Homo sapiens: one gene and its partners. The protein of the gene in region 1 interacts with the protein of each later gene in a biochemical or structural test. Each region holds a gene or a part of one and is shown in the gene's direction. Other genes may lie near its edges. The genes, in order: CRKL, WAS, PTPN11, KIT, MAP4K5, STAT5A and PXN.

The links.
Region 2: the proteins of CRKL (region 1) and WAS form a complex in vitro, tested with the Homo sapiens proteins (one study listed by BioGRID).
Region 3: the proteins of CRKL (region 1) and PTPN11 form a complex in vitro, tested with the Homo sapiens proteins (one study listed by BioGRID).
Region 4: the proteins of CRKL (region 1) and KIT form a complex in vitro, tested with the Homo sapiens proteins (one study listed by BioGRID).
Region 5: the proteins of CRKL (region 1) and MAP4K5 form a complex in vitro, tested with the Homo sapiens proteins (one study listed by BioGRID).
Region 6: the proteins of CRKL (region 1) and STAT5A form a complex in vitro, tested with the Homo sapiens proteins (one study listed by BioGRID).
Region 7: the proteins of CRKL (region 1) and PXN form a complex in vitro, tested with the Homo sapiens proteins (one study listed by BioGRID).

What each region holds. Positions count from the first base shown.
Region 1 is NC_000022.11:20,930,907-20,934,406, forward strand, and holds part of CRKL (crk-like protein), read left to right. Parts: intron 1-2,872; coding exon 2,873-3,338; intron 3,339-3,500. UniProt on the Homo sapiens protein: May mediate the transduction of intracellular signals.
Region 2 is NC_000023.11:48,686,799-48,689,362, forward strand, and holds part of WAS (actin nucleation-promoting factor WAS), read left to right. Parts: coding exon 1-157; intron 158-1,255; coding exon 1,256-1,298; intron 1,299-1,501; coding exon 1,502-1,655; intron 1,656-1,861; coding exon 1,862-2,268; intron 2,269-2,521; coding exon 2,522-2,564. UniProt on the Homo sapiens protein: Effector protein for Rho-type GTPases that regulates actin filament reorganization via its interaction with the Arp2/3 complex. Important for efficient actin polymerization. Possible regulator of lymphocyte and platelet function.
Region 3 is NC_000012.12:112,449,947-112,453,446, forward strand, and holds part of PTPN11 (tyrosine-protein phosphatase non-receptor type 11), read left to right. Parts: intron 1-371; coding exon 372-566; intron 567-3,248; coding exon 3,249-3,441; intron 3,442-3,500. UniProt on the Homo sapiens protein: Acts downstream of various receptor and cytoplasmic protein tyrosine kinases to participate in the signal transduction from the cell surface to the nucleus. Positively regulates MAPK signal transduction pathway. Dephosphorylates GAB1, ARHGAP35 and EGFR.
Region 4 is NC_000004.12:54,727,457-54,730,956, forward strand, and holds part of KIT (mast/stem cell growth factor receptor Kit isoform 1 precursor), read left to right. Parts: coding exon 1-86; intron 87-366; coding exon 367-471; intron 472-554; coding exon 555-665; intron 666-1,878; coding exon 1,879-2,029; intron 2,030-3,500. UniProt on the Homo sapiens protein: Tyrosine-protein kinase that acts as a cell-surface receptor for the cytokine KITLG/SCF and plays an essential role in the regulation of cell survival and proliferation, hematopoiesis, stem cell maintenance, gametogenesis, mast cell development, migration and function, and in melanogenesis.
Region 5 is NC_000014.9:50,435,070-50,438,569, reverse strand, and holds part of MAP4K5 (mitogen-activated protein kinase kinase kinase kinase 5), read left to right. Parts: intron 1-475; coding exon 476-478; intron 479-561; coding exon 562-676; intron 677-1,035; coding exon 1,036-1,094; intron 1,095-3,500. UniProt on the Homo sapiens protein: May play a role in the response to environmental stress. Appears to act upstream of the JUN N-terminal pathway.
Region 6 is NC_000017.11:42,305,498-42,308,970, forward strand, and holds part of STAT5A (signal transducer and activator of transcription 5A), read left to right. Parts: intron 1-112; coding exon 113-205; intron 206-743; coding exon 744-950; intron 951-1,904; coding exon 1,905-1,999; intron 2,000-2,095; coding exon 2,096-2,226; intron 2,227-2,680; coding exon 2,681-2,836; intron 2,837-3,473. UniProt on the Homo sapiens protein: Carries out a dual function: signal transduction and activation of transcription. Mediates cellular responses to the cytokine KITLG/SCF and other growth factors. Mediates cellular responses to ERBB4.
Region 7 is NC_000012.12:120,213,731-120,217,230, reverse strand, and holds part of PXN (paxillin), read left to right. Parts: intron 1-114; coding exon 115-390; intron 391-649; coding exon 650-958; coding exon of another isoform or gene 959-1,301; intron 1,302-1,569; coding exon 1,570-1,671; intron 1,672-1,813; coding exon of another isoform or gene 1,814-1,957; coding exon 1,958-2,128; intron 2,129-2,232; coding exon 2,233-2,406; intron 2,407-3,013; coding exon 3,014-3,095; intron 3,096-3,240; coding exon 3,241-3,389; intron 3,390-3,500. UniProt on the Homo sapiens protein: Cytoskeletal protein involved in actin-membrane attachment at sites of cell adhesion to the extracellular matrix (focal adhesion). Recruits other proteins such as TRIM15 to focal adhesion.

The sequences.
Region 1 (3,500 bases):
CTCCTGACCTTGTGATCCGTCCACCTCAGCCTCCCAAAGTGCTGGGATTACAGGCGTGAGCCACCACACACTGGCTAACTGCTTTTAACTATACAAATAATAAAATACTCTTGGATGGAGTCTAAGGTGGAACTGACTGTGCTCTTAATAGTGTCTGAAATTTATATGGTACTTACTGGACTGTTCACAGGCTCTCTGTGGCTCTTGAAATAGCAGGGGCTGGGTGTGATGGCTCACACCTGTAATCCCAACACTTTGGGAGGCCAAGGCGAGAGAATTGCTTGAGGCTAGAAGTTCAAGACAAGCCCTGAAAACATAGTGAGACCCCCATCTCTACAGAAAATTTAAAAATTGGCTGTGTGTGATGGCAACTGCCTGTAGTCCCAGCTACTCAGGAGGCTGAAGTGGGAGGATCACTTGAGCTTGGGAAGTGGAGGCTACAGTGAGCTGTGGTTGTGCCACTCTGCACTCCAGCCAGGATGACAGCAAGACCCTGTCTCAAAAAAAAGAGAAAGAAATAGAAGCAGGGATATACTTGAAGGGGTATGTGTGTGTTCATGTCGGTACATTGGATGCTTGGTGCTGCTCGGTAATTTTGAATGCCTCACATGCATTATGCCATTAATTCTCATACACCTGACAGATGCAGGGTTCGTCCCTAAGGCTGATTAGCTCATTATGAGTGAAGAGTTTAGAACCAGACTCCCTGAGTGCAAGTCTAACCTCTTCTTTGGCTCCTCATTTGTAAAATGGGGATAATAACAGCATCTACCTCACAGACTATTAAATAATCCAATCTCTTCAAAGATCGTAAACCATGCCTAGCATAGATAATAAGTATGAGCTCTTTATTATTACTCTTGCTCCTACTACTCTTGCTAGCTATTTATTTTTATTTTTATTTTATTTTATTTTATTTTTTTGAGACGGAGTCTCGCTCTGTCACCCAGGCTGGAGTGCAGTGGTGCAATCTTGGCTCACTGCAAGCTCCGCCTCCCGGGCTCACACCGTTCTCCTGCCTCAGCCTCCTGAGTAAGTGGGACTACAGGCACCCACCACCATGCCCGGCTAATTTTTTGTATTTTTAGTAGAGACGGGGTTTCACCGTGTTAGCCAGGATGGTCTCGATCTCCTGACCTCATGATCCGCCCACCTCAGCCTCCCAAAGTGCTGGGATTACAGGCATGAGCCACTGCGCCGGCCTCTTATTTATTTATGTTTTGAGACAGTCTTGTTCTGTTGCCCAGGCTGGAGTGTAATGATGCAGTCATAGCTCACTGCAGCTTCTAACTCCTGGGCTCAAGTAATGCTCCTGCCTCAGCCTCTTGAGTATCTGGGACCGCAGGTGTGTGCCACTATGCCCGGCTCATTTTTTGTCTGTTTAGTAGAGACAGGGTTTTGATATGTTGGACAGGCAGGTCTCCAAGTCATCTGCCTGCCTTGGCCTCCCAAGGTGCTGGGATTACAGGTCTGAGCCACCACGCCTGGTGGATTTATTATTTTTAATTTGGCAAGTCTGTAAGCCCTTTTTTGTTCCTTTTTTTTCAAGAGGCCAGAGGCAGAGGCCTTTGTCATTTTCTGTGTGTCCAGGGAAGTGTGCAGGATGTAAGCCATAGATTAGGACTGGGAGGAAGAGTGTGTGGTGGTTGTGACAAGGGTCCAAAGGAAGGCAGCTTCCGAACTTACTTGAGATTATAAAAATAAATTTAAACCAGGTATCTCTGTGTAATCAAAAGGTTTCTGTAAAACAGAGATGGAGTGTATGTGTGTGTGTATACTTGTAATTTGAAAAGACATTCAGAATAGTAACTTTTGGGACAGTACAGACTACAAAAATTACAACATGATAGAACCTTCTTAACTACTAAGAATATAGAAAGGAAAATAAAGCCAGGCGTGGTGGCTCACACCTGTAATGACAGCACTTTGGGAGGCTGAGGCGGGTGGATCACATGAGGCCAGCAGGAGTTTGAGACCAGCCTGGCCAACATGCCAAAATCCTGTCTCTACTAAAAATACAAAATTTAGCTGGGTATGGTGTTGCACATCTGTAATCTCAGCTACTCGGGAGGCTGAGGCAGAAAAATCACTTGAACACGGGAGGTAGAGGTTACAGTGAACTGAAATTGCGCTACTGCACTCCAGCCTGGGTGACAGAGCAAGATTCTGTCTCCAAAAAAAAGGCTGGGCTCAGTGGCTCACACCTGTAATCCCAGCACTTTGGGAGGCCGAGGCAGGCAGATCACGAGGTCAGGAGATCAAGACCATCCTGGCTAACAAGGTGAAATTCCGTCTCTACTAAAAATAGAAAAAATTAGCGGGGCGTGGTGGCATGTGCCTGTAGTCCCAGCTACTCAGGAGGCTGAGGCAGGAGAATTGCTTGAACTTGGGATGCAGAGGTTGCAGTGAGCTGAGATCCTGCCACTGCACTCCAGCCTGGGCAACAGAACAAGACTCCATCTCCAAAAAAAATGTAGAGGCCGGGCATGGTGGCTCATGCTTGTAATCCCAGCACGTTGGGAGGCCGAGGTGCGTGGATCGCCCGAGGTCAGGAGTTCAAGACCAGCCTGGCCAACATGGTGAAACCCCTTCTCTACTAAAAATAAAAAAAGTTACCTGGGCGTGGTAGTGGGCGCCTGTAATCCCAGCTACTCAGGAGGCTGAGGCAGGAGCATCACTTGAACCTGGGAGGCAGAGTTTGCAGTGAGCTAAGATCACGCTATTGCACTCCAGCCTGGGCGACAAGAGCAAAACTTGTCTCATAAAAAAGGAAAATAATTTATTATAGAGGAGAGTGGTATATTAAGAAGTTTGACAGGCACTGGCTTAGAGTAAGATTTTTCTCTTAGAGTAATTTTCTTTCTCTCTTAAGGTATCCAAGCCCACCAATGGGATCTGTCTCAGCACCCAACCTGCCTACAGCAGAAGATAACCTGGAATATGTACGGACTCTGTATGATTTTCCTGGGAATGATGCCGAAGACCTGCCCTTTAAAAAGGGTGAGATCCTAGTGATAATAGAGAAGCCTGAAGAACAGTGGTGGAGTGCCCGGAACAAGGATGGCCGGGTTGGGATGATTCCTGTCCCTTATGTCGAAAAGCTTGTGAGATCCTCACCACACGGAAAGCATGGAAATAGGAATTCCAACAGTTATGGGATCCCAGAACCTGCTCATGCATACGCTCAACCTCAGACCACAACTCCTCTACCTGCAGTTTCCGGTTCTCCTGGGGCAGCAATCACCCCTTTGCCATCCACACAGAATGGACCTGTCTTTGCGAAAGCAATCCAGAAAAGAGTACCCTGTGCTTATGACAAGACTGCCTTGGCATTAGAGGTAAAATCTGTTCAGATTAGCTTTTTGGGTCCTTTGACATTTGGTTTTAATTTTTAGTTTTAGTTTAGTTTCTGCTCATTTAAGCTTATATTCATGGAATTAGAGCACTGGATGATTTTGGAAGATACGCACTGTTAGCGTTTCATTTTAAAATTTTTTTAT
Region 2 (2,564 bases), on another chromosome or scaffold:
TCTCCCTGGGGCTGGCGACAGTGGACATCCAGAACCCTGACATCACGAGTTCACGATACCGTGGGCTCCCAGCACCTGGACCTAGCCCAGCTGATAAGAAACGCTCAGGGAAGAAGAAGATCAGCAAAGCTGATATTGGTGCACCCAGTGGATTCAAGTGAGAGCCACTCCCCAGTGGACCCACAGATTCCTGGGGGCAGAGGGGCACATGAACAAGTGGACAGCTGAGTGAATGGAAGGATGGGCAGATGGGCAGATGGCTGGGTGGCTGAGTGGGTAAATGGGTGGTTGGATAGGTAGGTGCAGGGCTGGGTCTAGGGAGAGGTAAATAAGGCACCAAGGGTACAAAATTTAAGGAGGCACTCACTCTCAGAGGCATGCAACTGTAATTCCTGACTCTCAGAGTGAGTGACTCACTTAAATTTTGCACCCTAGGCACCTTACTTGCCTCACCCTGGGCCCACTCTGGGTGGGCTGTTAGGAGAGCAGGTGGGTGGGCAGGTGAACAAATGGATAGATAGATGAGGTAGATGATGGATGAGAAGGGCTGGTGGGTAGGTGGGTGAGTGGATGGGTGGATGGATGGATAAATGAATGGATGAATGAATGGGTTGAAGAATGAATGGATAAGTGGTTGGATGGACAAGTTTATGGGTGGATGGGTTGATGGGAGGTGCGTGGATAGATAGATGGGTGAGTGGATAGGTGTGTGGACAGATTGATATGCAGGCTGATTGGCTCACAGACAAGGTGGATGGGGATGGACAGGTGGACAGATACGTGGATGAATGGACAGTTCAATGGATAAGTGAACAGAAGTGTGTGGTTGCATGGGTAGAAAAATGAGTGGATGGATAGATGGAAAGGTGGGCACATGGGTAGGTGGATGGGTGGATGGACAAGTGTGTGTGAGGACAGACTGGTGGACAAATGGGTGAACAGACATATGTGGGCAGATAGTTGCAGAGACAGATGTATGGACAGATCAGTAGTCCAACAGATGAATGTGAATGAATAGGTGGACAAATGCATGGGATAGATGGGGAAAGAGGGATGGGTGGATGGATCAGCACCACAAACTATGGAGCCCTTCTAATTCCATAACTCCTGCCTATACTCATTCACTCATTCAGTCTCATTCATTAATTCTGGCCCCTCAGAGTCTCTTTGGGCAGGAGAGGGCAAGAGGGTTTCACTATGAAGGGAGGGAAGGAAGGGCAGTGAGGATTCACTGGAGTCTCTTCACCTCTCCCAGGCATGTCAGCCACGTGGGGTGGGACCCCCAGAATGGATTTGACGTGAGTAACTTCAGAGTCTCTTGGACTCCACTAAACTTCCACCCACCCTTCCAAAGACCACTGCTGAGACCCCACCCCCAGATCGTGCCCTTCCCACACCCCTCTCAGATCCCTTGCTGGGATGGACCCAACGACAATCCATGTCGCTTGTCTCCTCGCCTTATTCCTCTACTCCTGCCCCTGGCCTTTTTCCTCCTGGGCAGGTGAACAACCTCGACCCAGATCTGCGGAGTCTGTTCTCCAGGGCAGGAATCAGCGAGGCCCAGCTCACCGACGCCGAGACCTCTAAACTTATCTACGACTTCATTGAGGACCAGGGTGGGCTGGAGGCTGTGCGGCAGGAGATGAGGCGCCAGGGTGAGACCCTGCTTCCATACGCTCCCTTCTCTAGCCCAAGCAGCTCATAGCTAAGATACGCACTAAGTCACTCAGTCCTTATGGGAGCACCTATACTGCTTCAGTCAGGAGTTGGTCAGTGGGGGTACCCATTTTACAAATGAGCAAAACTGAGGCTCAGAAGAAATCAATGAGAGTTACAGCTATGTGTTATACCCCCTCCACAGAGCCACTTCCGCCGCCCCCACCGCCATCTCGAGGAGGGAACCAGCTCCCCCGGCCCCCTATTGTGGGGGGTAACAAGGGTCGTTCTGGTCCACTGCCCCCTGTACCTTTGGGGATTGCCCCACCCCCACCAACACCCCGGGGACCCCCACCCCCAGGCCGAGGGGGCCCTCCACCACCACCCCCTCCAGCTACTGGACGTTCTGGACCACTGCCCCCTCCACCCCCTGGAGCTGGTGGGCCACCCATGCCACCACCACCGCCACCACCGCCACCGCCGCCCAGCTCCGGGAATGGACCAGCCCCTCCCCCACTCCCTCCTGCTCTGGTGCCTGCCGGGGGCCTGGCCCCTGGTGGGGGTCGGGGAGCGCTTTTGGATCAAATCCGGCAGGGAATTCAGCTGAACAAGGTGAGGACAGGCAGGATGGAGGATTGGGGGTCTAGGACTCTGGGGTGTCCCGTCTAAGTCAGGATACTGGGGGGCTGAGGCCAGGACTGAGGAGAGTGCCAGGCCTTAGGGATTCAGTGATAGGGTTGAAAGGTTGGTGGGAAGCCTTGAAGGGGACTGGAGTGTGTGGGAGAGAAAATATTGATGGAGGGGCGGGGAGAAATGCTCCTTTCCCAGGCCCTAAGCCCTCTGTGCTGATCCCTGCCTGCTGCAGACCCCTGGGGCCCCAGAGAGCTCAGCGCTGCAGCCACCACCTC
Region 3 (3,500 bases), on another chromosome or scaffold:
CCCAGCTTCTTGGGAGGCTGAGGTAGGAGAATCACTTGAACCTGGATTTATAATGTATGTAAATCCACCGCGAAGGTTGCGGTGAACCGAGATCACGTCATTGCACTCCAGCCTGGGCAATAAGAGCGAAACTCCATCTCAAAAAAAAAAAAAAAAGATATGCAAGGTAAAGATACTAATAAAGACCTTTGTGTTGAGTTGGTTGACATGTGGTTATTTCACCCATCGTATTTCTTATAGGGAATAGGTAAATTCGTTCCTTGGGTTTCTTTCAACACTTAGGTAAAATCCGACGTGGAAGATGAGATCTGATTTTACTGGTGTAACTCTTTATTTGTCCCCTTGCCTCCCTTTCCAATGGACTATTTTAGAAGAAATGGAGCTGTCACCCACATCAAGATTCAGAACACTGGTGATTACTATGACCTGTATGGAGGGGAGAAATTTGCCACTTTGGCTGAGTTGGTCCAGTATTACATGGAACATCACGGGCAATTAAAAGAGAAGAATGGAGATGTCATTGAGCTTAAATATCCTCTGAACTGTGCAGATCCTACCTCTGAAAGGTCAGTAACATTTTAGTGACCACAAAGTCTGCTGCTCCCTTGTGCCCTGAGTGTCAGAAATGCATGACGGTCTGTGTATGACTCTCTGACTCCAAAGGCTTGTGACTGTTTTTTGAGCTGTAATCTTTAAAGAATTACTAAAGTGAGACTAATAGCATCAAATTATTTTCAGAGTACCTTTTTCCTGCAAAAGTTTTAATCAGTGTTACTTACACTCATCCTATAGGGGTTGCATACCATTCCTGCATATACTTGGTACGTGTATTAGTTTTAAGACTTATTGAACTTCAGCAGATAATCTTTGAGAGTTATTAGAGGAAAACAAATGATAATGGAGACACCAAAATAGCAGCAGTTTTCTATGGTGGCTCTCGACCAGTTATTCAGCAATGTCACCAACAGATGTCAGTTTAAGCTCAGAAGTGGAAAAGCAGAGAGCTCAGAGGGTCAGCTTTTTCATCAGTTCTTTTAATGTTATCACCACAATTATGTGAGAATGACCTTGCTTAGAGAAAATTATGTTATTTTCGAGATCTTTCCCCCTGTGTTGGAACTAGGCTGATGAAAGCATGGGCTTGACTTATTTATTGATTGTATTCGTTTTGTACATTCCCAATCTCCTCTCTGACTTGGTGCAAATTCAGGATCTCTTAGTTAGTTTGTATATTTTGTGTCTTCAGGTATGATTTTTTCAGCTTATACCTTTATGTCAGTGCTATTATGTGCTGATAATTTGTTTCTCTAGCTACCACCGTAGCTTCAGGCAAAAGGCTGTCAGCCAACTCTGTACAGTTTATTTCTAAATTTTACTGTTTTCAGTTGAGTATGGATGAAGAATAACTCAAAGTTTATTCTTTTGATGATGAGCCCTTAACACCACCTGCCATGATAGTACTTGCTTTCTGACCAAGATCCTGAGGGAAAAAGCCACTTTATTATTAGAACTATGTTAAGATGCTTCCCAAAAAACATGGAGCAGTATTGTCTCAAAGTCTGTCCTTGGATGGCTTTGGATGCCTACATCAGGACTGTCTGATGTGCTGGTTAAAATGCAGATTCCTGGGCCTCATTCAGACTTACATGTATTGATATTGCTGGTTGTGGAGCCTGGGAATTCATATTTTTAGCAAAATCCCTCATTTTTACTCCAAGTCTTATGTGCATTATACAGTTTGAGATGATCACCCAGGATATAGTCCAAAGACACTGGAGGCTGTTGAAGTATAGGTTGTATATATGGAAAAGGTTGGAATGTTTGAATTAATTTATAATGAAGATCCTTTTTAATTGAGTGTTCACATGCCAAGGCAAGGACAAACATTCAAAATGATTTTCTGTCTCTGTTACAACTTTTTCTTTCTTTTTTTTAATTTATTTATTTGAGATGGAGTCTCACTCTGTCACCCAGGCTGGAGTCAAGTGACGCGATCTCGGCTCACTACAACCTCCGCCTCCCAGATTCAAGTAATTCTCTTGCCTCAGCCTCCCGAGTAGCTGGGACTACAGGCATGTGCCACCATGCCCAGTTAATTTTTGTATTTTTAGTAGAGACAGGGTTTTGTCATGTTTGCCAGGCTGGTCTCAAACTCCTGAACTCAGGTGATCCGCCCACCTTGACCTCTCAAAGTGCTGGGATTATAGGCGTGAGCCACCGTGCCTGTCTCTATTACAACTTTTTATTACAACTTCTTTATTTTGACTTTATTTTTACAAATTATTTATTTATTTTTTTTGAGATGGAGTTTCGCTCGTCACCCAGGCTGGAGTGCAATGGTGCGATCTCAGCTCACTGCAACCTCCGCCTCCCAGGTTCAAGTGATTCTCCTGCCTCAGCCTCCTGAGTAGCTGGGATTACAGGCACTTGCCACCACACCCGGCCAATTTTGTATTTTTAGCAGAGACAGGGTTTCACCATGTTGGTCAGGCTGGTCTCGAATTCTTGACCTCAGGTGATCCACCTGCCTCGGCCTCCCAAAGTGTTGGGATTACAGGCATGAGCCACCACGTCCGGCCGACTTTTATTTTTTTTTCTTGAGACAGGGTCTTGCTCTGTCACCCAAGCTGGAGTGCGGTGGCATGATCATAGCGCACTGCAGCCTCGACCTCCTGGACTCAAGTGATCCTCCTGCCTCGGCCTTGTGTATAGCTGGGATTACAGGCAGTTGCCACCATGCCAGGCTAATTTTTAATTGTTTTGTGAAGATGGGGATTTCACTGTGTTGCCCAGACTGGTCTTGAACTCCTGGCCTCAAGTGATCTTCCTGCCTTGGCCTTCCAAAGTGTTGGGATTACAGGCATAAGCCACTATGCATGGCCTGTAACTTCTTTAAATGGCTATAATTAAACAGTTGGTCCTTTTAAGATTGGGCAATGGACGAATGGCAAATTGCATTTTTAAAAGAGGAGGGATTTAAAAAAAAACAGGAAAGATTGGGGCATTTGTCTCTAAAGGACTGTGGACTCATTTAAGAAGTTTAGTGGTCATTCTTACCATCTTTGTGGTTTTTCCTGCCTGCATGGGATGCAGATTTTCTGTCTCAGGTGGGATTGATCAATCCCTTGGAGGAATGTGTCTACTTTTTAATTGTGTTTAGGAGAGCTGACTGTATACAGTAGTTTTGTGAAAGAACAACATGAACCCATAGTAGAGCTAAATTCTTTTTTATTTTTTAAAAACTTTAGGTGGTTTCATGGACATCTCTCTGGGAAAGAAGCAGAGAAATTATTAACTGAAAAAGGAAAACATGGTAGTTTTCTTGTACGAGAGAGCCAGAGCCACCCTGGAGATTTTGTTCTTTCTGTGCGCACTGGTGATGACAAAGGGGAGAGCAATGACGGCAAGTCTAAAGTGACCCATGTTATGATTCGCTGTCAGGTAAATCTCCAGTTGAAAAATGGGTCTGGCAAGATGTTACCTTTGGGTGATTTTTCTGC
Region 4 (3,500 bases), on another chromosome or scaffold:
AAATGGAAACAATTATGTTTACATAGACCCAACACAACTTCCTTATGATCACAAATGGGAGTTTCCCAGAAACAGGCTGAGTTTTGGTCAGTATGAAACAGGGGCTTTCCATGTCACCTTTTTGGGTACACATAACAGTGACTTTAAGGAACTCCAGTGGCTTCCTTTGTTTTGTTCCACCTGAAACAATGAGTTTTCTGTGAAATTGCGCCCCTTTTGATAGGTTTGCCATAGAGAACATCGTAGGAAAATGTCTCTGGACAACATTGTTTTTAATTCCTTTATTGATTTTGAAACTGCACAAATGGTCCTTCAATTCCACCACCAGCACCATCACCACTTACCTTGTTGTCTTCCTTCCTACAGGGAAAACCCTGGGTGCTGGAGCTTTCGGGAAGGTTGTTGAGGCAACTGCTTATGGCTTAATTAAGTCAGATGCGGCCATGACTGTCGCTGTAAAGATGCTCAAGCGTAAGTTCCTGTATGGTACTGCATGCGCTTGACATCAGTTTGCCAGTTGTGCTTTTTGCTAAAATGCATGTTTCCAATTTTAGCGAGTGCCCATTTGACAGAACGGGAAGCCCTCATGTCTGAACTCAAAGTCCTGAGTTACCTTGGTAATCACATGAATATTGTGAATCTACTTGGAGCCTGCACCATTGGAGGTAAAGCCGTGTCCAAGCTGCCTTTTATTGTCTGTCAGGTTATCAAAACATGACATTTTAATATGATTTTGGCAATGCTAGATTATAAACTGCTTGGAAGATTTTTTTACCCAGACTGTTGTTCTCTCTTGCTAGATTTTGTTTTCCTCATTGTTCTTAAGAATGCAGATTTTAATTTTATCATTATGGGGTAGAACAGCCCAGGACATACCCTAGTTATTGTCGTATTTGTAACATCAACGACATCAGCCTCTTGAATATCTCATCCCGACCAGAAGGCTTCTGTTATCTTGTAAGCTTTATACATTTCTTGATCATATGTAGCCACTGAAAGGGTTAATATTAATTTGCATACTACAATTTAAAACAGGCGCCTAAGCCTACTGGTTCTCAAATATACACCAAATGAGGCAAACATTTCACTTCTCTAAAAATAAGTTTCCAATTTGAAGCCTTAGTTGAAGTTCCCATCAAGGATGTCTGTGATGTTTGCAGAAAGTATTTCAGTTGAAAGAAACAAAGATGTGTAAAATGAGCTGTTTCTGGAGATCCACGATAAAGTTGACAGCCTTATATCATGTCTTCCAATAATCCCCATAAATGTTGCTTCACCACATCATGAATTGTTCATGAGAAAATTTCTTACCCAAGTTAATTAGTTGCCTGTTACTTCTAAACTACAGTTTAAACATTCATAGCACCAAAAAATTTTTCAACTAGTAGCGCTCAGAACACAGGTCATTTTAGGTTTTCACTCACTTTCCAGTCTTGTCCCAGCTGGCTGCTCCTTGTGGCTGATTTTCCCACTATGCCACAGTTTGTGCCTTCATTATTTCCATAATAACGTTACAGAGAGTGTGTGAAGCCCTGCTGTAAACAGAAGTGAACCAGAGGATTCACGTAGGAAGCTTGATAATAGTAGAATCTTTGAAAGCAGTAACTTCTCTCTGTAAAACCAGCAGTCATGCTTGGCTCCAAATACTAATGTCACTTAGAAATTCAGGTTAAAAGAGGCTTGCTTGTTTTATGTTACTCCACATAAGGCTGCTTTTTTGATAAGCAGTGTTAATATATGGGATTGTATTGGGACTAAGTAGTCTGATCCACTGAAGCTGAATATTAATGGCCATGACCACCCTTGGGTATTTTTATGGGAGGCAGAATTAATCTATATATCTCACCTTCTTTCTAACCTTTTCTTATGTGCTTTTAGGGCCCACCCTGGTCATTACAGAATATTGTTGCTATGGTGATCTTTTGAATTTTTTGAGAAGAAAACGTGATTCATTTATTTGTTCAAAGCAGGAAGATCATGCAGAAGCTGCACTTTATAAGAATCTTCTGCATTCAAAGGAGTCTTCCTGGTAAGACTGATTTACATAAATAGTTAGCTGTTGACAGGCAGTTCATGGGGTCATAAGGGTTTGCAATCAAGGCTGATTCTTTAAAAAATGAACTGAGGTACTCTGAGGTATGAAATCAAAATTATTAAATCATTTAAATGTGATTAACAGTTTAGAAAGTTAAATTGTGTTTTTAAAGATTCAAACCTAGATTTTTGCTGATTTTTTAAAAATGTATTTTCAGTTTTCTTCTACACTTTAGTTCCATGCAACTGAATGCATTCTATATCTGTTTCTCTTACGGTTCTGTCCTGCATGTATTTCCATTTATACTATTGAGCTTGGTACTACATGCATGTTTCCAGTGAGATACTGTTTATAGGGAAAATGCTAAAGCCTCTCAAGTTGCCACAGTAAAGTCCCTTTAAAACCTTTAGCAGAATGACAAAGAGCTCTGAACATATCTCCACATGTAGGCTTCTTGCCATCGACCTCTGGATTATTCCTGTATACCTTGCCTCTTGCCCTTTTTATTTCATCATGCTATTAAAAGACATAACTACTCCAGCACATTTTTTAAAAATTCTGGACATTATTCTCATCTCTTTCATCATTGATGCCATTCTGAATTTGAATCATGTATAAAGAGCTTTGAGTTTGACTTACAACCAGAAAAGAATTCTTCTCATATCTTGCCTATTCTTTCTTTGGAAATGCTCTTAAGGGCCACCATTTGAGAAGACTTCCTAGATGTACCCAGTCCAACAGAAGTCATGGTTATTTTGCCCAGTCCCCTATACTGTATATTGCTGCAGTTGTGTGGTAGATTTCTCCTATCCTTTTCATGCACTTTATATCCACTGCATCTTGCAATGGCAAGACATTGCCTCCTGAACTCTTAACACCAGGTCCTCAAGGAGACCTCAGTAAATATTATTGATGGGCAATTACCCCTTAAAGCCATTTTCTGTACCTCTGGCTAAAGTTTAAAACCCCAGGTGAAACTTTTTATTTTTTTTTAATCCTATAAACTTGAGTAGTTTAAAGTGGTAGTAGAAACTGTACAAAACCACTTTTTGTTAGTTTCTCCTGGGCATGTGCTCATTATATGAAGAAATGAGCCATTTTGCTTCTTTCCGAAACCTTGGCCCTATATATATCCTTTAACTTTCTGATATAATGGCCTAAATTGTTCAATCCTGTGTGATGTTCTTTGTGCTTTGGGATCCCATATGGGATTGGAACCACCAGCACACTCTGAAGGAGATTGTTGTCATGGTGTTTCTATGCTAATCAGAAGCAGGAAGTACTAGAAATCTTGAAGAGTCTCCAGCCAAATGTTGCAGATTGAAGAGGTCCAGATGGTTCAGAAAATCATCCAAATTATTGGTGTTTATCTGAACCAACTTGATTTTTTTTTAAACCTTCCTCCATCAGTCACTATATGTTAACGATCTCTGCCTCCTGCATAACACGTCTTGGAAGCTCTTCT
Region 5 (3,500 bases), on another chromosome or scaffold:
TATTTTTTATTATATGGAATTGTAGCCCTGTTATCCTTGTATCATGGCTTATAATATTGGTTGGTTTTACTTTTTTAAGTATTTCCATCTGTTATATTTAAGACTTCATTCACAATGATTTTTAATCCAAGGTAATTTGTTAAGTTATTGATAAATAGGTCTGTCCCAGAGAAATAATAATATAGCTTTATAGAATTTTCCATCTTGTATTAAAATAATCACATGTACATCATTGTAACTCAGTCCATAACATAAGATTTTGTACAACAATTTCTTTTTGTGTGCTGGCATCATTAAGGTTTAGTCTGCCCAGATCACCTATTAGTACCTAATTTATATATTCTGAATTAAAATTATCTGTTAATTTAAAAACATTTTATCTATTGTCTTTCAAAATAGTATTAACTGAGGGTTTTTTTGTGTGTGTTTTTCTATTTTGCTTGGCTTTTTGAACATTACTGGACTCTCGTTTTAGAAGGTAATTACGTTTTCTTTTTCTCGAAAATTGTATTTCTCTGCTGTAAATGATTCTCAAAAAGGTAACATGTTTTTCTTTTATAGGAAAAACCTTTCAGCTCTACTCTCACAATCTTATAGCTTTGTTTGAACATGCCAAAAAACCAGGATTAGCTGCCCATATTCAAACTCACAGGTTTCCAGACCGAATACTACCAAGGTACAAAATATCATTTTGATTCTACTGAATGAGGGGAATTAGTGTTTATTTTAAAAATAGCCCGTATTTCTTGCCCAGTAAAAAACTATGTCTTAATTTTCAAAGGTAGTTTAAACTAAAGTGTATTATATCTGGAAAAGCTGAACGTTTTCTGAACTTGACCATGAGAATCAACTGTGGAAGTTTTATAATACAGACTGTCAGGCCCTTCCTCAGTCCTATAAGATGAGATAGTGTGGAGTTAGGATCCAAGACAGTTTTTTAAGCTCCTTTCTGTCTGATTCTGATGCAACTGATTTACAAATCATTGTGTTGTAACCACTACTGTAGAGTGCATTTATATCGTCTTACGTTTTCAGAAAATTCGCTTTAACAACAAAGATTCCTGATACAAAAGGCTGCCACAAATGTTGCATAGGTGAGTAAATGGTATTTCTCAAACTGAATGGTTAGAACTTTTAACATCTTTATAATTATCTGAAGAGTCGTATGGAATCAAATAGGAAGGAGGGTAGGTTTTTAAAATTTGTGTTTAGTAAGAAGTTAAGCTGCCATTGAAGTACAAGAATATAGACAGACATGGCATAGAAATGCTTAGAGATAATAACCTTAGCGTTTTCTCAGAGCATAGTGTTCCTAGAGTTTTTTAACCATAGTCCCTGAGGCTGTATCTTTGCTAATATTCTAACTTTCATTTATTTAATATTTGCCATCTACCAGTTACCACCCATGTTTTATGAACATGTTTACAGGAGTTGAGCCAACTATGCAGTTAGAGGGAACAGTTCACACAAGAACACCCTCACTTATGATACCAATTGCAAGTTAGGGGATTCCCAAAACTACCCCCAGAATAAAAAAATTCACTAGAAGGTATCACGGAACTGGAAGCAGTTATACTCATAGTTACGATTACAATTTAGAACAGGGAAAAAATATAGATTTAAATCATTACCGTTTAGAACAGGGAAAGAATATAGATTAAAATCATTACCGTTTAGAACAGGGACAGAATATAGATTAAAATCAGCCAAGGGAAGAAGTACATAGGGCAGAGTCCAGGAAAAATACCAAACATGGAGCTTCTGTTGTCCTCTCCCTATGGTTAATGGATGGCGTTACTTTTCCAGCATTGGTATGTGGCAGAACACACAACCATTGCCAACCACTGCCAACCACAAGCTTATTCGAGCCTCGATGTCCAGAGTTTTTATTGGGGCTTCATCACAAAGGCATGATTGATTGACCACCTTGCTGATCTCAGTATGCAGCCCCACTAAAGGTCATCTGATGTTACATGACCCAAAGCCCCCACCCAAAATCACATTTTTTGTATTTCTGGCATGATTGATTGACCACCTTGCTGATCTCAGTATGCAGCCCCACTAAAGGTCATCTGATGTTACATGACCCAAAGCCCCCACCCAAAATCACATTTTTTGTATTTCTGGCATGACCAGCCCTCACATTAAGACTATCTAGTGCAGCCAGTCCCCACCCTGAATCATTATTGTTATATTATCCAGTGACCAGAGTCCCCCAGACAAAGACAGTCCTGTCAAGCATGACATTCCAAAGGCTTAGCAATTACCTCCCAGAAGCAGGACAGAGACCAGACCTCTTTTTTGGGTGAGGTTAAGTTCTTTACTACATAATTATCTCATTTAACCCTTAAACAACTCCATAATACTGATTGTGTCACTAGTAAGTAACAGAGCTTAGGAATCAGATTCAGGTTCAATGACTTCAGATCTTAAGTTCCTAACTTCCTATTTATTCTTTTGTTTGATCAATGAATTTACACATTGATCTTTGTGCCACATAATAGTTTCACAGCATAGTCCATACTGTAAAACAAAAATGTTTAACCACAAATGTGCTATAAATATTATTTTTCTAGGGAGAATCATGTCAATATCTATTATCAGATTCCCAAGATCTGTGATGCACAAAAGGCCTAGAAACTTGGAATCTAAGATAAAAACTCATAAATAATACTTTAGAGTTTAATGCAAATAACTATTCTTATAATCAATGATTATAATTATTAATGGAAATCAAATTTGGGAGAAGGAAAGAGCAATATGAATTTTTATAGATTTGAGTCAAGATTACATCATGATAAATTAATACATACAAGATGAATTATTTTCATCTTAAGTAGACATCTGTACACTGCTATACCAAAACGAGGTGCATTTTAGTTGCCTCCTAGACCTTGTCAGAACTCATTCTTTGAGTTTACTAAGAAACAACTTTTTGGGGAGGCCAAGATGGGAAGATCGGTTGAGTCCAGGAGTTCAAGACCAGCCTGGGAAACATAGTGAGACCCCATCTCTTAAAAAAAAAAAAAATTGAAAAATTAGCTGGGCATGGTGGCATACACCTATAGTCTCTGCTACTCAGGAGGCTGATGTGGGAGGATTGCTTGAGCCTGGGAGATTGAGGCTGCAGTTAGCTATTACTGTGCCACTGCATTCTAGCCTGAATGACAGAGCAAGACCCTGTCTCTTTAAAAAGAAAGAAGGAGGACGGGAGGGAGTGAGGAAGGGAAAAAAACACCTTTTTAGGTTGCATGTTAGGTTGTTATTGTGCTTGTCAAAAGTTCTTATGTTTAACAACCTAGTATATGCAAGTTGTTTAGAAGTAAACATATATAATTTAAAATTGAGATAAGAAAGTAAAACGGAAAAGGCAATGAAGCCAAAAGAAAAGACACAGTCTTTTTTTATTTTCTGCCCACTCTTGTCATCCTGGTTAACAGATACAATGAAAGTATTCAGTATTTTGAGTGTGTCTGGGTTTTTTGTTTGTTTATTTCTTT
Region 6 (3,473 bases), on another chromosome or scaffold:
ATATCAAAAAAAAAAATACATAAAAAAAAATAAAGCAGATTGGGCATGTTGCCTAAGCAGAGGGCACGTGGTGGTCACGCCCCATCAACTTGGGTTCCTTTGACTCCTGTAGACTCTGTCCCTACCTGTGGTTGTCATCGTCCACGGCAGCCAGGACCACAATGCCACGGCTACTGTGCTGTGGGACAATGCCTTTGCTGAGCCGGTGAGTCCCCGTGGGAGCCCTACCCCAGCACCCCCAGGCCCTAGGACTCACCTGGGGTCAGCCCCACCCCTTGGGCCCCTGCTGAGTGGTCCTTCCTCACCCCAGGGCCAGCCCAGAGGTGAGGTGAGGCCAGAAGGGCTGGGGTGCTGGGCGCCTGCCTTCCACCATGGCCTTGGCACTCTGGGTTCCAGGTTCCTGGACTGGGGTCTGTGAGGACTGTGAGCTTGGTCTTTGGATCCTGGTCTGGGATCCTCCTTTGGCAGATGGCTTGGGTCCTTGCTCTCTGTTTTCTGTTTCCTGGTCTGCATCTCTGTCCCTGCATGCCCCCACCCCCTGCATCGGTTTTCTTCCCTGCAGGCTGGGAAAAAAAGTGCAAGCTAGTATATAAAAGCCGCCGCATTTCCTGCCCTTGCATTTGTGTCACCTTTCTGGATCTGTCTCAGTCTCCTCTGTCTCTAGGTGTCTGTGTATCTTGTGTGTGTGTGAATATTTCCAACTCCCTCAATCTACCTTTTCCCCTCTCTTGTCTCCCTCTCAGGGCAGGGTGCCATTTGCCGTGCCTGACAAAGTGCTGTGGCCGCAGCTGTGTGAGGCGCTCAACATGAAATTCAAGGCCGAAGTGCAGAGCAACCGGGGCCTGACCAAGGAGAACCTCGTGTTCCTGGCGCAGAAACTGTTCAACAACAGCAGCAGCCACCTGGAGGACTACAGTGGCCTGTCCGTGTCCTGGTCCCAGTTCAACAGGGTGAGGGGCCCAGCTGCCAGCCGCCCACCAGGGCCCACCGGGGTCTGTTGCTCCTCCACCTCACAGACAGGTTACTGCCTGGGGCTAGCACCCCACTCTCCACCCCCAACCACTCTCTCCTACAACCAGGAGAGATGGGGGCCCCTAGCCTCAAGAAATGCAGGCAGGGGCTATAGGAGTTGTGCTTAGTTGTGAAGCCAAGAGCGAGATGACGGAGGGCCCAGGGCTGGGAGTCAGGATCCTTGGGTTCTGGGCCTAGATGTGTTTGCTAATTTTCTTTTTTTTTTTTAGAGACAGAATCTCATTCTGTCACCCAGGCTGGAGTGCAGTGGCGTGATTTCAGCTTACTGTAACCTCTGCCTCCCGGGTTCAAGTGATTCTCGTGCCTCAGCCTCCTGAGTAGCTGGAATTATAGGTGCCTGCCACCATGCTGGGCTAATTTTTGTATTTTTAGTAGAGATGGGGTTTCACCATGTTGGTCAGGCTGGTCTCGAACTCCTGACCTCAGGTGATCCGCCCACCTCGGCCTCCCAAAGTGCTGGGATTACAGGCGTGAGCCACCACGCCTGTGGCTCTGGCTCTCCTTCTGCCTCTCTCCTTGCTAATTTTTGAAGACCCATCCATTCTCTGTGCCTCAGTTTCCCCACCTGTAAAATGAGGGGATGACTTTGGAGGAATGACTTTGGAGGCCCCATCCAGCCTAGATTATTCTTTACACCTCTTACTCCCACCCTTGGGCTGGTCTTGGACCCCTGTGTCTTAGAAGTGAGTTTCCTCTCTGTTTTCCTAGGGTACAAGTTGGGGGCTGTGTCACTTTATGGTCTGCTGGAGTGTGGTGGCAAGCAGGGGTGAAGAACTGGGAGAAGACTGGGTGGGGGCAGGAGGGCCCTGACTTTCCTGGGCCACCTGTGACCTGGGGCACCAGCCCTGACTCGGGGGTTCCTGGGCCCTCAGGAGAACTTGCCGGGCTGGAACTACACCTTCTGGCAGTGGTTTGACGGGGTGATGGAGGTGTTGAAGAAGCACCACAAGCCCCACTGGAATGATGGGTAAGGAACGGGGGCTGCAGGGTCAGGGGCCAGCTGTGGGCGCAGAGAGACTGTGGCTGTGGCCCAGTGGTGACGCTCAATGCTCCGTGCACCCAGGGCCATCCTAGGTTTTGTGAATAAGCAACAGGCCCACGACCTGCTCATCAACAAGCCCGACGGGACCTTCTTGTTGCGCTTTAGTGACTCAGAAATCGGGGGCATCACCATCGCCTGGAAGTTTGACTCCCGTGAGTGCCCGTTTTGCCCACACTCCAGCCCCAAGGCCCGGTCTCTTGTTCCCTTGCCCCGCCACCCCACCCTCCATCGGGCCTGTGTCCTTAGAAGGTACCCAGCGGGAAGCTTAGTATGAGAGGGCTGTGGCTTGGAAATGTATTCTCTTTCTATTGTTTTCCATTTTGGAGAACCTGAAGTCCCCAGCCCCATAGACTCCAGGACGGCTGGGCGAGTCCTCCTGCAGTTTCACGCTCTCCCCTCTCTGCCACGACCCAGCCTTGTTGGTATCTGCTCATCTGGTTTGCTGAGTAGAACATCCCGCATCGGCTTTCTTCCCTACAGGCTGGGGCTGCAGCGCAAGCTACTATATAAAAGCCCAGATTTCTCTTGCAAGCCTGCCCTAAAGCCCCACAACCTTGGTCCTCCTGCTGCTGGTGGATTATGGGAATGAGGCTGTTCTTTTCACAGCGGAACGCAACCTGTGGAACCTGAAACCATTCACCACGCGGGATTTCTCCATCAGGTCCCTGGCTGACCGGCTGGGGGACCTGAGCTATCTCATCTATGTGTTTCCTGACCGCCCCAAGGATGAGGTCTTCTCCAAGTACTACACTCCTGTGCTGGGTGGGTACTGCCCCAGGACCCTGCCGGCTGACTCCCCCGGGCTCTTCCCCAGCCCATAGACAAAGCCTTGGGCTGCGCCGTGGGGACTTCCCCAGGAGGAGCCTAGGGGCCATGTCCCCTGTGGGTTTTGGCCCATGGGGTGGTGGAGAGGATTTCAGGGCTCACAAATGAGGAGAGGGAACGAGAAACCCGTCCCAGCTCTCTTCTCTGCAAAGTGAAAGCTGCATGGATTCTCACTTCTGCACCCTCGGAGGAAGGGGTGGCAGCACTGTAGGGAGTGGCCGGGATCATTCGAGCCCACAGATAGTGCTCCGCTCCCCACCTCACCAGCTGCTCTCCACACCCTGCTCACAAACCTTCCCCCGAGTGGAGTGCAGGCAGCAAAAGGGAGAAGTCTCTCTTCTTCCAGCTGCCCCAAATCCATTGGTTGGGTTTGCTTGTTGATTCTCATTCTTTGACAGGGGTGGGAGCAGGGAGAGGGAAATCAGATGGCCAGAAAAAGAACCAGAAGGAATGGGATTCAAGCCAGGGGTCTCAGTGACCCTCAGGCAGGATTCATCAGCTGGTGTTTATTGGGGGTCCTTGGGAAATCTCATCCCAGCTGAGAACACAAGGTGATGTGAGCAGGAGGGAGACT
Region 7 (3,500 bases), on another chromosome or scaffold:
TTCTTTGGTGGTTTTCTTTTGTGCTCCCTCTCCTGAGGCATCTGAGTGTGGCCTGAGCAGCGTTGTGCAAGCTGGGAGTGGGACGGTGACAGCCTCCCCTCCCCCTCCCCCTAGATCCGATCTGTGATCAGGAGGAGCTGGGAGTCTGGCCACGCACACCCCATGTCCCGGGAGCCCTCCCCTCGCCGCCGGCTGGACCCTGCCACCTTGAGCAGGACCCCATCCCAGGAACAGCTCATCGCGGAGCTGCAGGGGCGGCTGGGCATCCAGCCTGAGGCAGAGGAGCCGGCGGAGGCGGCGGGGCCCTCTGCCCAGGACTGGCTGACCGAGGGCGTCATCATCACTGTGCAGCCACGTGGGAAGCGGGCCGGGGGGCAGCTCGTAGAGAAGGTGGCGAGGAGATGCCCATGGCTGGGGCTGGGCCAGAGCCAAGCACCTGGGGTCCGGGTTCTTCCCTGGCCCCAGTGCTGGCCGGAGGGGAGATCTGGGGAGAGGGTGGGGGTTTCTTGCCTCCTGTGACTTTGGAAGACTGGCCCCACTCTTGGTGCAGAGTGGGAAGGCCCAGGGGGAGCCTGGGGAGGTCCCGCCACCCCTGTGGGCTGAGCTGGCGATTTCTTCCTCATCGCTCTCCCTCCTTTCTTCTCCCCAGGTTGTCTTCCCTCCTGGCTCTCCCATTCCCCTGAGAAGAACCATCTCTGTCCTGGCTTCTCCTTCTGTCCCTTTGCTCCAGCATCGCACAGACGCCGCGGCCAGCAGCTCTTCTCCCCTGCCCAGCCTGCTCGCCTCCTCCCCCCTGGGGCCCTCAGCTTATACCTGTGGTTCTTCTGGGGTCCAGAGTGCAGGGGAAGAGCCCCATGATGAGGGGGTGCAGGGCCCTGCCCTTCCCATTCCTGCACCCCACACCATGAGGTCCGTGGGCTGCCAGACTGATGAGGACCCGCTCTTCCCCCCGATGCAGGCAGGCCTTAAAGGAGCCCCTCCCTTTCTGTCCCCTGTCCTAATGCCTGAGCCATCCCCCACTCTGCACACACACACGTGCACACACACATACACAGATACCCTCCATCCCTCCATCTACAAGCCCCAGCACAGTAACCACAGTCCTGCCGTAAACCTTGACCCCGGTCTTCCCCCACTCAGAAGGTCCGCTGCCCTCTTGCTTTTCTGTGGGTCCACCCATGTCTGCTCCTTCCTCGACTGGTCCTCAGTACTGCCCCGGGCTCCCATCGAGGAAAGAAGCCACTCCAGAAGGGAGACCAGAAACCTGTCTCCTCCCTTCCAGCCCCCAGGCCCAGCGCCCGGTGAGGCCTCATCACTGAGCCCGGCCACCTCCCCTTGCCATTTCCTCTGCCTTTGGTCGACTCCCCTCCCTGTCCTTCTTCCTTTCTCCCTAGGCCTCTCTCTCAGGGCTCTTTTTCTCCAGATTTTTTCCCCCAATTTTGGTCCTGCCGGTGGGGGAGAAACCCTCAGATCTCATCCTAGATTCCCTTTTAGTCCAGTGACAAGGTCTTGTATTCTTTCTTAATTTTTAAAAAAGATTTCTTACCCTCATCTCTTCCCCTATCTAAGATCCAGGGCCTGGAGCAAAGAGCGGATGGGGAGCGGTGCTGGGCGGCCGGCTGGCCTCGGGACGGCGGGCGGAGCAGCCCCGGAGGGCAGGACGAGGGAGGGGTCAGTGCCAAGGCTGGGCTGGGTGTCCTGCGTGTCGTGCTCTCCCTGGGCTTGGCCATGCCTGCTGGGTGCCCTCAGCCTTTCCGACCCTGGTGGGCCCCTCCGACCACCAGGAGTCCTGCTGACGTCACTCCCACTTTAGGGCTCCTGGCCCCTGGAGGAGGTTGTACTTCTTGTCTCCATCAGCTCATCTGTCCAGGAGGGAGAAAAGTACCCCCATCCCTGTGCTGCCAGACACCGTACCCCGAGCCTCAGGAGTCCTGACCAGCCCCCTCCGTGTCCACAGTTCATGGCCCAGGGGAAGACAGGGAGCAGCTCACCCCCTGGGGGGCCCCCGAAGCCCGGGAGCCAGCTGGACAGCATGCTGGGGAGCCTGCAGTCTGACCTGAACAAGCTGGGGGTCGCCACAGTCGCCAAAGGAGTCTGCGGGGCCTGCAAGAAGCCCATCGCCGGGCAGGTGATGAGGGGGAGTGGGCAGGGGTGTGGCCAGTGGACTCCTGCAGGGGTGGGGGTGCTCCGGGGCTGGCCTTGGCCCTGGACCGCATTCCATCTCCTCCTCAGGTTGTGACCGCCATGGGGAAGACGTGGCACCCCGAGCACTTCGTCTGCACCCACTGCCAGGAGGAGATCGGATCCCGGAACTTCTTCGAGCGGGATGGACAGCCCTACTGTGAAAAGGACTACCACAACCTCTTCTCCCCGCGCTGCTACTACTGCAACGGCCCCATCCTGGATGTGAGTTCCTCATCCGGCACCGCGCCCGCTTCCGCTCATTCCAGCTTCACCGCAGCCCTCTGAGGATGCAGGGGGTGCCGTGGGAGGCTCAGAGAGGTCACATGCCCGAGGCTCACAGGGCTAGGGAACAGTGGGGCCGGATTCACAGCCACACCTGAACCACAGCCTGTCCCGATGTGCATCGGGCAGCCCCACCTCCCTTCACCTCCCATCTCGATTCCTTTCTGTGGAGACTCCCAGGACTCAGGAGCCCTGAGGAGATAAATGGAGTTGGATGCCAGCGGCCTCACTCTCCCTCTCTGTGAACTTAGGAAATGCCTGGCCTCTCTGAGCCTATGTTTCTTCACTTATAAAATGGGAGTCATAGAACTTGTGCCCTCTACTTGGGGTGAGGAGTAGAGGAGAGGGTATGTGTCTGGCTTGTCCCATCCTGAGTAACTCTGAATTCTTAGAGGCATTCACAGCACAATTAGGAGAGACCCCCATCTTGGGAGTGTTTTGCTCTGTCTATGGCTATGAGCTGCGGGTGGAAGGACGGCCTTGCTGGGCGTCTCAGTTGTGAGATCTGCCCAGAGCTCAGCCTTGATCCCACATTTTGCTTTCACAGAAAGTGGTGACAGCCCTTGACCGGACGTGGCACCCTGAACACTTCTTCTGTGCACAGTGTGGAGCCTTCTTTGGTCCCGAAGGTACGGGCTGGACCGGCGGACTGACCCACCGCCTCTTAGGAGGGCCGGGGAGGTGGGGGTGGGAGACGCTGCTGAGGTTGGAGTCAGAGTGGCTCCACTTCTGGAAGCCGGAATGAACTGTGCCTCCAAAACCCCCGCTCCCCAGGGTTCCACGAGAAGGACGGCAAGGCCTACTGTCGCAAGGACTACTTCGACATGTTCGCACCCAAGTGTGGCGGCTGCGCCCGGGCCATCCTGGAGAACTATATCTCAGCCCTCAACACGCTGTGGCATCCTGAGTGCTTTGTGTGCCGGGTAAGGAGCCCCTGACCACATCTGGAGGGGCGAGGAGCAGGCAGTGGGGAGAGAGGGGTCTTCCTCATTGTGCTGTCTGGATCCAACTCAGAGGCCTCATTTGGGGTTATT